Linked DNA regions of Homo sapiens. The protein of the gene in region 2 binds, or shares a complex with, the protein of the main gene of each other region. Each region holds a gene or a part of one and is shown on either strand. Other genes may lie near its edges. A codon is read from its position in the direction of its gene.

What was found. The genes of interacting proteins can lie anywhere in the genome.
Region 1: the proteins of LPL (region 2) and GPIHBP1 are in contact, whole or in part, in a crystal structure (PDB 6OAU), measured with the Homo sapiens proteins. Residues at the interface, in NP_000228.1 of Homo sapiens: Tyr367, Gly368, Thr369, Ala371, Glu372, Glu374, Leu403, Met404, Lys406, Lys430, Lys440, Ile443, Cys445, Ser446, Arg447, Glu448, Val463, Lys464, Cys465, His466, Asp467, Ser469; in NP_835466.2 of Homo sapiens: Cys68 (codon at 1,532), Lys69 (codon at 1,529), Ser70 (codon at 1,526), Leu92 (codon at 1,460), Ala94 (codon at 1,454), His95 (codon at 1,451), Gly96 (codon at 1,448), Asn97 (codon at 1,445), Thr98 (codon at 1,442), Glu99 (codon at 1,439), Ser100 (codon at 1,304), Leu103 (codon at 1,295), Thr104 (codon at 1,292), Thr105 (codon at 1,289), Ser107 (codon at 1,283), Trp109 (codon at 1,277), Cys110 (codon at 1,274), Thr111 (codon at 1,271), Asp112 (codon at 1,268), Ile117 (codon at 1,253), Lys119 (codon at 1,247), Val121 (codon at 1,241), Glu122 (codon at 1,238), Thr124 (codon at 1,232), Val126 (codon at 1,226), Met128 (codon at 1,220).

The regions. Positions count from the first base shown.
Region 1 is NC_000008.11:143,208,924-143,216,564, reverse strand, and holds the start of GPIHBP1 (glycosylphosphatidylinositol-anchored high density lipoprotein-binding protein 1 isoform 1 precursor), read right to left. Parts: upstream 3,348-7,641; 5' UTR 3,298-3,347; coding exon 3,246-3,297; intron 2,744-3,245; coding exon 2,615-2,743; intron 1,553-2,614; coding exon 1,439-1,552; intron 1,307-1,438; coding exon 1,047-1,306; 3' UTR 1-1,046.
Region 2 is NC_000008.11:19,949,013-19,956,501, forward strand, and holds part of LPL (lipoprotein lipase precursor), read left to right. Parts: intron 1-2,756; coding exon 2,757-2,936; intron 2,937-4,297; coding exon 4,298-4,409; intron 4,410-5,107; coding exon 5,108-5,341; intron 5,342-6,828; coding exon 6,829-7,071; intron 7,072-7,489. UniProt on the Homo sapiens protein: Key enzyme in triglyceride metabolism.

The DNA of each region.
Region 1 (7,641 bases), about 120 Mb from region 2:
TGCTTCCTCTGCAGGAAGCTGCAGGCCCATTCTGCCCCCTCCCTGGCACAGGGTAGCCTGTCTGACACCCCCAGATCCATCCATGACACCCACTAGGCTGAGGGCTTGGGGACTGGAGTCTAGAGGGCAGGCCAGGATGAGGCTGGAAAAATTCCATCTCATCTACTCCTCTCCTTTCATCAACTCCACCCCTCCACTGCTCTAGCCTGCTTTAGCCTCTGCTAGAGCAGAGACAGGTATTCCCAGCCTCAGGCGCTGTCCTAAGCCCAGCAGGTACTGACCCTAGATGGTCACCTCAAGGTGACAGGCACCCACCCAGCATCTGGCCCTTCCCCATCCAAGGCTGCAAGTTCACTTTCCAAGCCAGGGTCTCCCATAGCGGTGCTCACGCCATAGCCAGACAGGCCCCGCTGGCCCCATCCTCTTCATACTTGGTGCCTGTCCCCCCAGCCCCCCCCCGCCCCGCCCCTCCGCATGTGGCCTCACCCCAACCCACCTCCCTGTGCCCTCTCATCCTCAGCGCGCCTCTCCCACTGTCCCGCCTCCCCCAGGCCCGTCTTTCCTGGGGGCGACGACAGCCTCCCTCCAAATCCCCTTCCCTCCAGACAGCGGAGAGGCCGACCTGGGGAAGGGCAGGGTGGGCCCGTGTGACCGCTGCAGATGGAGGAATTCCCATGGCAGAAGTTAAGGGTGAGGACTGGGTGTGGGGGCCCCCAGGTGTGTGGTGGGTATCATCTCTGCCTGGCTGTGCTGATGGGGATCCCCAGCCCCCATGAGGGCTGCAGGTCCTGGGGCGTGGCAGCCGAGGTCTGGACCCAGCGCCCACGTGCGGCAGTCTTGCTGCTCACAGGTGGTGGAGAAAGGACACCAAGGACACAGCCGGGAACTGAGGAAGCAACCGGGCCGGGGGGCCTGCGCTGGCTGGATCGCCCAAGACACTCCAAATCCATTCTCCAAAGCTGGTGCAGGGGCAGGAGGGGAAGGTACCAGACAGAGTGCTGGCAGGGCCGGGGGTGAGCCGGGTGGGGGTGGGGAGGGGCCGTGGGTCAGGGTCTCCTGGCCCCCATTGCTCCAAGGCCGGCAAGGAGGTTGAGCAGGAGGGCTGCGCCCACAGTTTCGGAGCTGCCCCGGGGGCCGCCTGCCCCCTTGCCTGTTGGGTCCTGGACTCGGGAGCTTTGCCAGGGTGGGACATTGCACAGGCTGGACTGGCAGCAGGTCATGGTCACCTGGGTCCCCTCCACCGTCTTGGTGATGGGCTGGCAGCTGTCTGTGCACCACGTGGAGTGGGTGGTCAGGAGGCCTGACTCTGGGAAGGGGAGTGGGGAACAAGTGCTGAGGATGGGCGGGGTCTCTGAGGTGGCTCTGCAGGGCTCTGTTCCGGGCCCCTGGCTTTCCCGCCGCCTGGGGGTGCATGTGCTGCGGCCCCACGCCCACTTACCGGTGTTCCCGTGGGCAATGAGGGTTGTGCAGGTCTGGCCATGTGAGCAGTTCTGCGTCAGGTTGCAGCGCTCGTCCCTGGGCAGGGACTTGCAGGTGTAGCACCGCAGCAGCACTGGGGACAAGGCGGGCTCAGGCCGAGGCCGGGCCCCCCAGGGTCTCCTCCCACGTCCCTGTCCACCTCCCCGTTCTCAGCTGTGCTCCCAAAGCCTAGCCTGGTGAGCCTCCAGCACCCACTGCTCAGATGGGCGGGCGACCCCTGACTTGGTCCTGTAAGCTGTGCTGTGTGCGTGAGCCTGTGTGTTTAGGGGGCAAGGGATTGCGGGTCAGGCAGGGCGAACTTCCCATCATCACTCACGTCCTGCGACAATGCTGCCCAGGCTCCTGCCGTGGTCACAGAAACCTGGAGGTGGGTCTGACTCAGTCCTGCCTCCAGGAGCACCAGGCCTGGCAGAGGAGGGCCTCACAGGGGACACCTCGTGGGTGTGTGGGGCAGGGCTCGTGCTGAGGGCAGGCTTGGGGCTCCTGGGAGGGGGGTGGGCTGTGTGTGGTGGGGCATGCTGGGGGCCCTGGCTAGGGAGGGGCTGTGTGTGGTGGGGCACGCTGTGGTCCCTGGCTAGGGAGGGGCCGGCCCTCGGGTTGGATGCGGCGATTTGCTCTGCTTTTCTCGGGATGGGAGAGAGCAGAGGGTGGCCCACGTGTAGGGGTGTGTCAGGTGGGCAGTGAGGGTGGGCTCTTCTTAGCCCTACTCTGCTCTGCTCTAAGCGGTTCCCTGGCTCCCCAGCCCGCAGCAGCCAATCCAGCCCTCCCCTGTACAGGACCGGCCCACCCTGCTGCTCTCTCTGCCCCACAAAACTGAACCCTACCCTGGGGCCTCTGTGCTTGTGTCTCCACCCTAGGCCCCCACTGAGCCCTTCTCTGCCTGGTGAACTCCTATTTAACCTCTACATCCTGGCACCACTGACCCTCCCAGCTGGTGGCTTCTTCCCCTGTTCCCTACTCTGGAAGGCAACTGAGTGTCATGGTGAGCAGCAGTGAGGGGTGTACTGAGTGTCCCCCACTCTGCTGGAGGCAAGCTCACAGCAGGACTGTGGCCTGCTGGCTTCCATCACACAGCCCCGCCCAGAATGCTCCAGGCAGATCAGGCAGCAGGGCTCTGGGGTTGGGGCGGCCATACCTCTGCTCCTGCCACCAGGGAGCCTGTTGGTCTCCTCCTCTTCCACCTCATCCTCATCTTCCTCGTCGTAGTCATCTGGCCCGTGGTCCTCGTCCTCTTCCTCTTCCTCCTGCTGTGTCTGCCCTCTCCCTGGCCGTGCAGGGATGCTTGTAAGCCTCAGCTACCCGGGTATGGAGGACACCTGCTCTGGGCAAGCATCGTGCCCCCAACTCCTTGGCCCTCCCCAGCCATCCTCGGGCCCCAGGGTGGCTGGGGAGGGCCCCTACCCTGAACACCCTACTCACCCTACTCACTGTCCTGCAGCCTACTCACCCTACTCACTGTCCTACTACCCTACTCACCCTACTCACTGTCCTGCAGCCGAGTGTGCCCTGGCATTGTAGTTACAACAGCAGCTGCTGTGGGCTGGCCCTTTATGGTAGCCCCTCCCCGCACCCCACATAAACAGGGGCGCAGATATTTGGGGACTCTCGGGGACCCAGGCCAGCTTCCATCCATGCTGCTCTGGGCTGGGGACTCCAGCCTCATCCCCTCCTTCTTCCTAAGCCCCTGCTGGGGGTCCCTGGAGGTCCCTGTGCTCCAGGACTGCTGTTGCTGCCCCCTCACCGCAGGGTTACCCTTTGCCCCGCACCTGGCCGCCCGAACAGCAAGAGGGCAAGCAGGACAGCCCCGAGCGCCTTCATCTCGCCGGACGCTGCTGTGTCCCTGACTCTGAGTCCTCCCGCAGGGCTCTGGAGCTGCGGTAAGTGGGATGAAGGGCATTGCCGTGGGCTTCCTAGTGGCCCCCACCAGCTCCAGCCTCAAACAATGGGCCTCACACTGGTCCCCAGCTCCAGGCGCCAGGCCAGGGACTGTTGTTTCCCTCCAGGACATCTGGGGCCAGAGGGGAAGGAGAAGTCATTGTGGTTGGCCTTGGAACGTCCTGTGCACCCGTGCCACGGCAGGTGGAAGGTGGTGCTGGCCCTCGCCTGGCTTGCCGCTCAGTGCCTCAGCCCTGCAGTGCAGGGCAGGGAGCCTCGCCCCGGAATGGGCCATGCCTGACACCCCTCAACCCCATGTCTGGGCTCCATAGTCACAGGACCTTGGGGTCACAGACCCTCTATTTGCTGGTCACTGGCCAAGCATCGTCATCCTAGAGTCAGCATCACACCCAGGCCCCTTTAAGAGCATTTAAGTAAAAACACAGTCAATGCCCTCAAGCTAAGGCTGCGTGCTCACCTCCTCCTCACCCACACTCAGCAATGCACTGCTAGGCCCAAGGCCTCCCGGCTGCCCCTCACTATCACCTCGGGTCTTTGCCCCTGCTGCTCCATCTGCAGTGCTGTTCCTGCTGGTGTCCGGTGGAGAGCTTTCTGGAGCTCTTGGGGGCCCGCCCCCTCGGTCTCTTGCTGGGAAAGCCATCAGCACCCACCTGCCTTCTGGCCTTGTGTGAGAGACGGGCTGCTCTGGGAGAGGCTTGGAAAGCCCAGGTCGCTCCCTGAGGCCACCCCCTCCTCTCAAGACCCCACCCAAGCCCTTGGGGGGTGCTGATGCAGAGTGCAGAGTCGAGGCTCTGAGCTGCCCCTCTCCCAAGGGCAGCAGAGGGGTGGGGCAGCGGCAGGGGCTGGACGTCCGGAGCCAGGGTCAAGCCTGAGCGTCTCTGTGTGCCTTGGTGCTTGGGCCAGGCACTTCACCTACTGAGGCCTCAGTTTCCCCGACTGTCAATGGGTGGGGTGGGGCATTTTCTGGCCGGCCACCTGTAACAGAGGTTGAGTTGGTTCTGGAGTGAGCTACCTGGGTTTAAGACCCGGTTCCTCCTTCCCCCGGCTGTGGGTTCTGGACTAGCCCCTTGGGTTCCCCAGGCCTCAGCTCCCTCATAGGGTGAGGTGACCATCAAGGGTCAGTACCTGCTGGGCTTAGGACAGCGCCTGAGGCTGGGAATACCTGTCTCTAATGTCCCAGCCACCGAGTCAACCATCCTTCCTTAATTCACCTGAACCTGTCATTCTTTCCACTCTACCGGCACCCACCCAGCATCTAGCCCTTCCCCAGCCAAGGCTGCAAGGTCACTTGCCAAGCCAGGGTCTCCCATAGTGGTGCCCACGCCACAGCCGGACACGCCCCGCCAGCCCCAAACTCTTCATACCTGATGCCTGTCCCCCCCAGCCCCGTCCCGCCCCGCCCCGCCCCGCCCTTCCCTGCCCCTCCGCGCGTGGCCCCACCCCCACCCGCCTCCCTGCGCCCTCTCGCCCTCGGCCCGCCTCCCCCACGCCCCGCCTCCCCCACTGCCCCGCCTCCCCCACTGCCCCGCCTCCCCCACTGCCCCGCCTCCCCCCACGCCCCGCCTCCCCCACTGCCCCGCCTCCCCCACTGCCCCGCCTCCCCCCACGCCCCGCCTCCCCCACTGCCCCGCCTCTCTCACGCCCCGCCTCCCCCCACGCCCCGCTTCCCTGGTGCCCCGCCTCCCCCACACCTGTCTACCCCATGCCCCGCCTCCCCCACTGCCCCTACTTCCCGTCGCCCCGCCTCCCCATCGCCCCGCCCCCATTCGCCCCTTCTCCCCAGCGTCCCACCTCCCTGTCGACCCGCCTCTCCTGTGCCCCGCCTCCCCCGTGCACCGCCTCCCGTCATCTTCACCCCTCCTCCCCCACGCCCCGCCTCCCTGTCGCCCCTCTTCCCTGGTGCCCCGCTTTCCTGCTGCCCTACCTCCCCCGCGCCCCGCCCCGGCTACCGCTACAGGCCCTTGAATCTAGTGCTGCAGGAGCTGCTCCTAGGAAGGGCGCTACTGGGATTCTCAAGGGGCCTCCACCTGCCGCCTCCCCTCCACAGGGGCCCAGGCCCTTGCACGTTGCCTCCCTCTGGGCCCAGCTCCTCTTCAGCCCAGGTGCAAACTGCCCAGCCCAGGCAAGTGCTTATTGCGAGAATCACCTAGGGACAATCAGAGCACATTTGATTCGCAGATTGAATTAAATTTAGTGCTCGCCACTGAGAGGCTGTTCCCTCTGTCCCGCCCCGGAAAGGCTAGTGGGTCTGGTCCAGCCCCTACAGAAGGTGCCACCTGGGATGGTGCGCAGGTGTGAAAGGGGACCCGCAGTGGCAGACACCTGGTTCCCCAGCACTGCCTACAGCCGGCAGGTAGGCGTGGTGGGCTCTGTATGTGGAGCCCACCCCCTCATCCCACCCAGGCACCACGCAGCCTCCCTCAAGCCCCCAGGGCAAGGTCATGACCTCTCAGACACTCCAGGGTGAAGATATGATGCCTAAGACCTTCAGGGCAGGGCTGTGGTCCCCCAGGGCCAGGGCTAAGGTCTGGTGGTCCTGATGGCAGCTGCATGGGTCATTTTCGAGCCTGCACCTGCGCCCCTGGGCTCAACCGCCTTTCCAGGCCCAGGCTTCCTCCCTGAGCCATGCGCACACCCCAGGGCACCGTTGAAGGGCAGCCCGGCCACCCCCGCTCCCTGCCCACAGACCTCTGTGCCTTGGGGCCTGGACTTGCCTGCTCTGCTGGCTCGTGGGGCTGGCCCTTCTGACACAGCGGTTCTCTGGGCCTCCTCTCACGGTGGGGCCTGCATGACTCACGTGGCTCTTTTTGGCAGCGGCAGCCTTGGGCTCAGAGCTTGGTGCTGGTTGTGGACAGGGGATGCCTGGCCATCCACACTCCATCCTGCCTAGGTGACATGTGGGGGCGGGGCTCGGCAGGCAGGGTCCATGCTGGCATCATGCCCAGGTGGGGCCATGGGCTCTGCTGTCCTGGGGGGCTGTGTGGCCCTGTCCTGGGCCTGCGCGTCCTACTCTGTACGCCCTCCCCCGTGTTGACACCAGCTCGAGTCAGATCCAGACCTGTGCACTGCCATCTCTGGGAGGCAGCCTGCCGTGAGATTGGGTTTGGAATGAGGGAGGCGTTGGGAGGAGGGCACCTTGGGGCTGGGCCTGAGGGGTGAGCAGAGTTTTTCTATAAGGAAGGGTGGGCAAGTGTTTCTGACTGAGGGGCAAGTGTAGGGTGTCCATACCGGGAGAGTAGGGCCTTTTGGGGCAGATGCAGACTGCAGATGTGCTGGCCCTTGCAACACTTTCCCTGCTCTGAGCTCCTTCCTGCCCTCTCTGCAGCCAACCTTCTCTTGTCTCACTGAACCTGAGTCTGGCAGAGGGAGGGGCTTGTTTTTAGAGCAGAGTCCAGACTCTCCTCCCCTGGGGTTACTCTCCGCTTATTTTTATTTATTTATTTCTTTTGTTGAGACAGAGTCTCACTCTGTCGCCCAGGCTGGAGTGCAATGGCAGGATCTTGGCTCACTGTAATGTTCGCCTCCGGGGTTCCAGCGATTCTCCTGCTTCAGCTTCCTGAGTAGCTGGGATTACAGGCTCGCACCACCACGCCCAGCTAATTTTTGTATTTTTAGTAGAGACAGGGTTTCACCATGTTGGCCAGGCTGGTCTTGAACTCCTGACCTCAGGTGATCCACCCGCCTCGGCCTCCCAAAGTGCTGGGATTACAGGAGTGAGTCGCTGTGCCCGGCTCTCTCTGATTCTGATGACCCCACAGTGCCAGGCTGAGCAGGCTGCCCACCATGTGCACTGAGGTACAAGCCCTTTTTCTTTCCTGGGATCCAGCACTCAGAGGTAGCTGTGGGTGGGCGGGCCGGCCAGGGGGAGCAGCTCCCACGGGTCCTGCAGCTCCCAGGCACCCCTAGAACCCACGAGGGAAACACATCCTGGTTCCAGAAGCTCGTTCATTAACTCGTTCACGTGTGGTTCACTCAGGTACCCTCCCTGGCCTCCCAGCTCCCCTCCATGCTGCTCTGCACCTGGAACCCTCTATGCTCCATTTCCTAGTCCTTAGACACCCTCAGCCCCACCACCATAACCCTGGAGAGTCTCCTTTCCCTTGCTCTTCCAAGGGGGTCCCTCTTGTCCCCCACTTGTGAGGGTGACTGATCTCTGTCTAGCTCCGCTTAGCAGAGCTTCAGATGGTCCTTCAAGCTCCCACCCCCGCTGCCTCCTGCCACTATCCATCTTCGATTTCTAGAGGCAGGGCCCAGGCACCATCCTCT
Region 2 (7,489 bases):
TTACTTTAAAAAATTGTTAAAAGTCCCCTCTCTAATATGTCACACAGTCACTTTAGATTATGTAGTTCTTGCTTAGTTTGTTTTAAAATGTTTCAATCCCAAGTGAGTAGACTGTGTAATTTATTTAAAAGGATTTGTGTAAAATGGCTTGTTAAAGATATATTATCTATCCATTATGTCAGAGCTTGTGAATATTATAATACTAATTTCTAGTGAGAACTAACTAAAAATAACATTCATCTAGTCCACATTTCTTTTCCTACATAATTTAAGTGGCTTTGTTATTGACTGAAGAGGACAATCGCTACAATTTTTATAGAGATGAGACTACTACTAACAGAATTCACACAGATGTTTAACAAAATATAGCCATTTACTATGTTAACATAGTAAATTCAATATTTTGTGATAAAATCTCAAATTCCTAAACATAAATCCTTTAATATTTTAATAGGTGTAAGTAGGAAAAAGGAATCTTTTTCTTTTTTGAGATGGAGGCTCACTCTATTGCCCAGGCTGGAGTGCAGTGGCGCGATCTCGGCTCACTGCAACCTCCGCCACCTGGGCATAAGAGATTCTCCTGCCTCAGCCTCCCGAGTAGCTGGGACTACAGGCGCCCACCACCACACCCGGCCAATTTTTATATTTTCAGCACAGGCAGGGTTTCACCCTGTTGGCCAGGCTGGTCTCGAACTCCTGACCTCAAGTGATCTACCCACCTTGGCCTCCCAAAGTGTTGGGATGACAGGCGAGAGCCACTGCATCTGGCCCAGAAAAAGGAATCTTTAGAGGCCCTTTGGTTATATACAGAACTTGGATTTTAAAATTTTTCAAAAAATCTGAGCTTAATAAACGCATTTATACAACAGAAATAAATTGAGTATCTCAGTCATCTCAATCTTATCCCTGAGAGAATTTTATACTTTGGGAAGTTGTGGGAAAAAAATGGTTCTTTTTCATACTAAGATGACATGACCAACCCAATATCAACAGACGGTGCCACTTCCTATCATTGGTCCTACTGCCTCACTAAGCCCACCTGTATCTTTCACATCATGTGTCCTGACATTTTGAGTGCTTGAGCACAGAGACTGCTGTCTGGCTGTGGGACTGAGTTGGGTCTGTGCAAGAACTAAGCCAGCCACACTGATCTTGATTATCTCAGTGAACTCACTGGCAGGGTCAGGTGGCCCACCTGGTATAGGCAGCAGGGAGGGCTTCAGTTCAGCTGCGTGTCTGAAAACCAAAGATTTAAAACATAGTAATTATTGAACCTCAGAAGAAAAACTCAGATTGAAAGAACTTAGAATAAGACCCTTTTTGAGTTGAGAAAGGTGAGTACTTAGATTTTTCATTTGCTTTGTTTGGGATTACTTACATCAGTATTTTATGTTGATCAGAAAGAAAGGATTCAATTAGCTATTGTTCGGTTAATAAAAATGTCAGCCACTGTAGGAGTAAGTTGGATGTCCAGCCTTTTTAGATTGCTTAACTTGGAAACACTGGGCTGGGAGCGGTGGCTCATGCCTGTGATCCCAGCACTCTGGGAGGCCAAGGCAGGCAGATCACTGGAGGTCAGGAGTTTGAGACCAACCTGGCCAACATGGGGAAACCCAATCTCTACTAAAAAAATACAAAAAAATTAGCCAGGTGTGGTGGTATGTGCTTGTAGTCCCAGCTACTCAGGAGGCTGAGGCAGGAGAATCGCTTGAACCAAGGAGGCGGAGGTTGCACTGAGCTGAGATCATGCCACTGCACTCCAGCCTGGGCGAGACAGTAAGACTCTGCCAAAAGAAAGGAAAGAAAGGAGGGAAAGAAAGGAAGGAATGAAAGGAAGGAAGGGAAGGAGGAAGGGAAGGAGGGAGGGAGGAAGGAAGGAAGGAATGAAGGAAGGAAGGAAGGAATGAAGGAAGGAAGGAAGGGAGGGAGGAAGAAAGGAAGGAAGAACAAAGAAAAGAGAAACACTGGTAGTACAGAAAAACTTCTGATAGAGGCCTAGAGTAAACCCGATTTTCTTGCCTTATCTGAAATAAGCTGCCTGGGGACTCACAGGCACAGACGAAGGGAAATGAGGAGGCTCTCCAGCTGTGTCATGAGACACCCAAAGGAATGCTTAGCATGTAGCATGCATGTGATACATCCCAGCAGGTTGCTTAGACACAGCTATCTTGGAGCTTTGCCACTTGCTTGGATGTCACTGGCTTTAAGTACAGGGTTCCCATTGTGAAGTAGGGGATCCTGGCTGAAACAGGGAGACATTAACATTACATTCTGAAGAAATGACATCAACCTCTCCTGATCTTGAAAGCCAACTACAAAGGGTGCCCAACACCCCAACCTTGAAGGGAGGCGAAGGTGAGTGGGACTGGACCAATTCAACAGGGTTCTGCTCCTAGCCAGGTGCTCCTGCTAGTTTCCTCAAAGACCCACTTTGCATTCAGACCAATCTTTCCTTTTAATAGTATAAATGATCAAAATTTTATTGAATGTCTAAAATATACTTTTTAAATGGGAAGCATGGTGAACCCCAATCTGCCGTTCCTCAACTCAACTCAATGCCTTCCTGGCTTACTTAGATCTGCCTTGGAAGGGACAGACCTGTCTCTGAACACTGTTCTGTTATTTGATTTTTCTATCTGTGCCAATGGGTTTCCAATCAAGTTTGTTTTTTCCATTTCATGCAGGTGTATTGGGCTGATGTATCTATGACAAGTGGTAGGTGGGTATTTTAAGAAAGCTTGTGTCATCATCTTCAGGTAACAGGAATGTATGAGAGTTGGGTGCCAAAACTTGTGGCCGCCCTGTACAAGAGAGAACCAGACTCCAATGTCATTGTGGTGGACTGGCTGTCACGGGCTCAGGAGCATTACCCAGTGTCCGCGGGCTACACCAAACTGGTGGGACAGGATGTGGCCCGGTTTATCAACTGGATGGAGGTAAGACTGGGAGAAGGAGACTTATGTGTCCAAAACAGTGTTTTTGACTGGAGCCAGAAAACCGGCTGTTCTTTCTTCCTTTTCTCTTAGATTTAAATATTTTCTGGGGGCATTCAAATCTTCAGAATCAGCGTGGATATTATTTTATATCCAAAAGCAACATTTTGATAAGAATAGACTATAAGGCCAATAAATAGTCCTGCCCTGCTCTATCGTTTGATATTTTCACAGTGAATAGATCTGCTGAGACCAATAACTAAGTGGGCCCAACAGAAAAAAGCTTGTGATTTTCGGACAGAGGAAAGATGGCATGTTCAGCCAGACCCTTCCCTACCAGTTGGCTGGCCTGTGGACATCTTATCCTCACCTTGACATACCAATCTCTTTCATGAAAATATTAATAGTACTTATTCTTTAGTGTGAAATAGGATGAACGTTTTTGTTGAGCATTGGGAGAGTGATGGAATTGAGCTAGGAAGATGTTGGAAGGGAAGGTGCATAGGATAGAAGGGAACTGAGGTCTGGAGTTCTGACTTAGCTGCAAGAGACCCACTTTTTCACACGATCCCTTGAGAAGTACCTCTGAAAAGTATCTTGGGGTTGGAAAGAAGCTGATACTCTGACCAAGGCAAATTATTTTAACCAGGTAATTGGAAGTAAAAAATAAGCTGTGTTTATTAGACTGATCATAAAAGACAAAAGTTCTTTTCTTGTCTTTTTTGCTGACCAGGCAAATGAACATGGGCAAACGGGATCACCTCCCTGGGGCTCAGGCTTCTCACCTGTTAAATGAGGGGCTGGACCATGTACCTCTGGTCCCTTCCACTGAATGTTTCCTGAGTCTGTCATTGCTTGGCTAACCTTCAATGATAAAGTGATACAGATATTTAGAGTAAGGAATAATGGGAAAATATATACCCATATACTATACATTCAAACATACACACATATACATATATGCATGCATATAAATGTATACGCATATGTATATGTGTATATGTTTGTACGTATAGTATATGGTTATATATGCAAATACATATACATATACAAACATATGCATATATTATATACATAAATAATACTATTTCAGATGCATGGAAAAACTTTGTAATTTAAATCTGCTATTAAAGAAAGAGAAAATCAATTCTGGATTTGTTTACGGAAAAGTGAAACAAAAGAAAAAGACAATTTTAACACTAGAGAATATTTTCTCTCTCTTACCTGTAACACAAAATTAAAATAAGTAGAATTAGTTTTCAGTATTTCCTATATTTGGAAAACAATATTTATATTCATTTTGTTTCTTTTAGTTTTATTTTTGGCAGAACTGTAAGCACCTTCATTTTCTTTTTCTTCCAAAGGAGGAGTTTAACTACCCTCTGGACAATGTCCATCTCTTGGGATACAGCCTTGGAGCCCATGCTGCTGGCATTGCAGGAAGTCTGACCAATAAGAAAGTCAACAGAATTACTGGTAAGAAAGCAATTTCGTTGGTCTTATCATAAGAGGTGAAAAGACTGTCATTCTGAGAGAGAATCAGAACAAATTTTGTTAAATACCCACATGTGTGGTGTTCTTCCCGGAGACATGACCAGCACTTGATTATCTCATTGTAGGGCTCTTTATTAGGGATAAGAAAAAACACAGACGCTCTCACTGGCTTACTATCCACTGGCAATAGCACAGAAATAAAGCATAATTACACACAATGCCTGCAGATTTCTCTGGGAAGCCTGTTTCCTCCCACTCTCAGCTCTGTGTTTTAGTAGTGTAAATGCACATCAGTACTAGGAGAAAAGAAGAAGGACCAATTCCAGAGGCCACTTCGAAAGAAGACCGTCATCTAGGCAAAGGTGTGGCATACACACAGAGAGAAAGAACCCACCACTGTTTATACATCTTCTCGACATATTCAGAAATAATCTACAAAAGGAAATCCAGCCATCCTGAGTGGAAACTGCTGCATAAGGCTAGTTTAAGAGACTCAAATTCATTTTAGAAGGAGCCAAGCCTCCTTTTATGTCTCTCTAAGTAAAGATACCATGACTGTAGAATAGGAGCTAATAAGAATCTAAATAGCTGCCAGTGCATTCAAATGATGAGCAGTGACATGCGAATGTCATACGAATGGAAATTTACAAATCTGTGTTCCTGCTTTTTTCCCTTTTAAGGCCTCGATCCAGCTGGACCTAACTTTGAGTATGCAGAAGCCCCGAGTCGTCTTTCTCCTGATGATGCAGATTTTGTAGACGTCTTACACACATTCACCAGAGGGTCCCCTGGTCGAAGCATTGGAATCCAGAAACCAGTTGGGCATGTTGACATTTACCCGAATGGAGGTACTTTTCAGCCAGGATGTAACATTGGAGAAGCTATCCGCGTGATTGCAGAGAGAGGACTTGGAGGTAAATATTATTTAGAAGCGAATTAAATGTGACTCTTATCCTTAACCCTTATTGACCCAATGTCCTACTCAGTAGCTTCAAAGTATGTAGTTTTCATATACACATTTGGCCAAATTATGTTTCTGAAGAATTCTGCAATGTTCAGCATGACCACCTTAGAGCCAGGCAGACAGCCATTTTATCTTTTATTTACTATACTGTAGGCTACACTGAGCAGTGCACTTACAGTAGCAAGAGAAAAAGGTGGGATTTTAGACAGGAAGACTCCACTGACCTCAATAATGGCATCATAAAATGCTATCTGGCCACATGTTGTCATACCTTGAATGTAGCTGCAAAGCCAATGGAAAGATTTTAGATGTTACTGGAACAGAAGATGTTAATTAGGATAAATCTTCCAAAATGTTCAGAACATAATGTTAGCTTAATGTTTTACTTTAATAATGTTAGCTTGTGTTAAATTTATGATTTTTGTTTGTTTGTTTTTTGAGATAGAGTCTTATTCTATTGCCCAAGCTGGGGTGCAGTCACACAATCACAGGGACTTGCAATGTTGCCCAGGCTGGTCTCAAACTCCTGGCCTCAAGTGATCCTCCTGCCTCAGCCTCCCAAAGTTCTGGGATTGCAGCTGTGAGCCACCACGCCCAGTTTACGATTTATTTTTAAGAGCCCCTTGCATACTTTATAGACATTGGGACCTACCTAGGATATTCTCGTTATTTTTGTGCACGTAATAGAACTTAGAGCATATTGTTACTATTTTCGATTGTCCTAAAAACTTACAAGGAATTCATTCTTATGGCATTGCTGATTATTTCTATGTTCATTTGATATAAAAGAGTGTTAGTAGGGGCAGAACCCTCAATTGTACATAATATCAATGATAAAATACAATTCATTTAACAATTACCCTCTTAAGATGTGGTTTCTAGAAATACAAATTGTCCCTAACTTACAGTTTTCCAACTTTACAATTGGGCTGTAACACCATTTTAAGTTGAGAAGCACGTGATGGTTTGACTTAAAACTTTTTGACATTATGATGGGTTTTGGGGGTATTAAGTGCATTTTGACTTACAGTATTTTTGACTTATGAAGAATTTATTGTAAGGCAAGGGGCAGGTATATGTTTCTAGAAGCACCTAGAAGTGTTAGACACTTTCAATGTAAGAGAAGGATGAGATAAACAAGGAAATCAACCTCCACCTTGGAGGCTTATTACAGCTTCATAAACATACTCATAAATATAAGAAGCACAAAAGTCAAAAATTCCCTGTGAACTTGCAACTTTCACTCTCTTGAAGGTGGGTGGGCCGCTACCACCAAGAATATCTCCTGAAATAGGGCCTACAATCATAAATGCACAGGACTATATCCTTGGGTGATTCTACTCTAACACCACATCTCACCTATTTTAGACATGCCAAATGAAACACTCTTTGTGAATTTCTGCCGAGATACAATCTTGGTGTCTCTTTTTTACCCAGATGTGGACCAGCTAGTGAAGTGCTCCCACGAGCGCTCCATTCATCTCTTCATCGACTCTCTGTTGAATGAAGAAAATCCAAGTAAGGCCTACAGGTGCAGTTCCAAGGAAGCCTTTGAGAAAGGGCTCTGCTTGAGTTGTAGAAAGAACCGCTGCAACAATCTGGGCTATGAGATCAATAAAGTCAGAGCCAAAAGAAGCAGCAAAATGTACCTGAAGACTCGTTCTCAGATGCCCTACAAAGGTAGGCTGGAGACTGTTGTAAATAAGGAAACCAAGGAGTCCTATTTCATCATGCTCACTGCATCACATGTACTGATTCTGTCCATTGGAACAGAGATGATGACTGGTGTTACTAAACCCTGAGCCCTGGTGTTTCTGTTGATAGGGGGTTGCATTGATCCATTTGTCTGAGGCTTCTAATTCCCATTGTCAGCAAGGTCCCAGTGCTCAGTGTGGGATTTGCAGCCTTGCTCGCTGCCCTCCCCTGTAAATGTGGCCATTAGCATGGGCTAGGCTATCAGCACAGAGCTCAGAGCTCATTTGGAACCATCCACCTCGGGTCAACAAACTATAACCCTTGTGCCAAATCCAGCCTACTTCCTGCTTTTGTAAATAGTTTTTTTAAAACTTTTAAGTTCAGGGGTACGTATGTAGGTTTG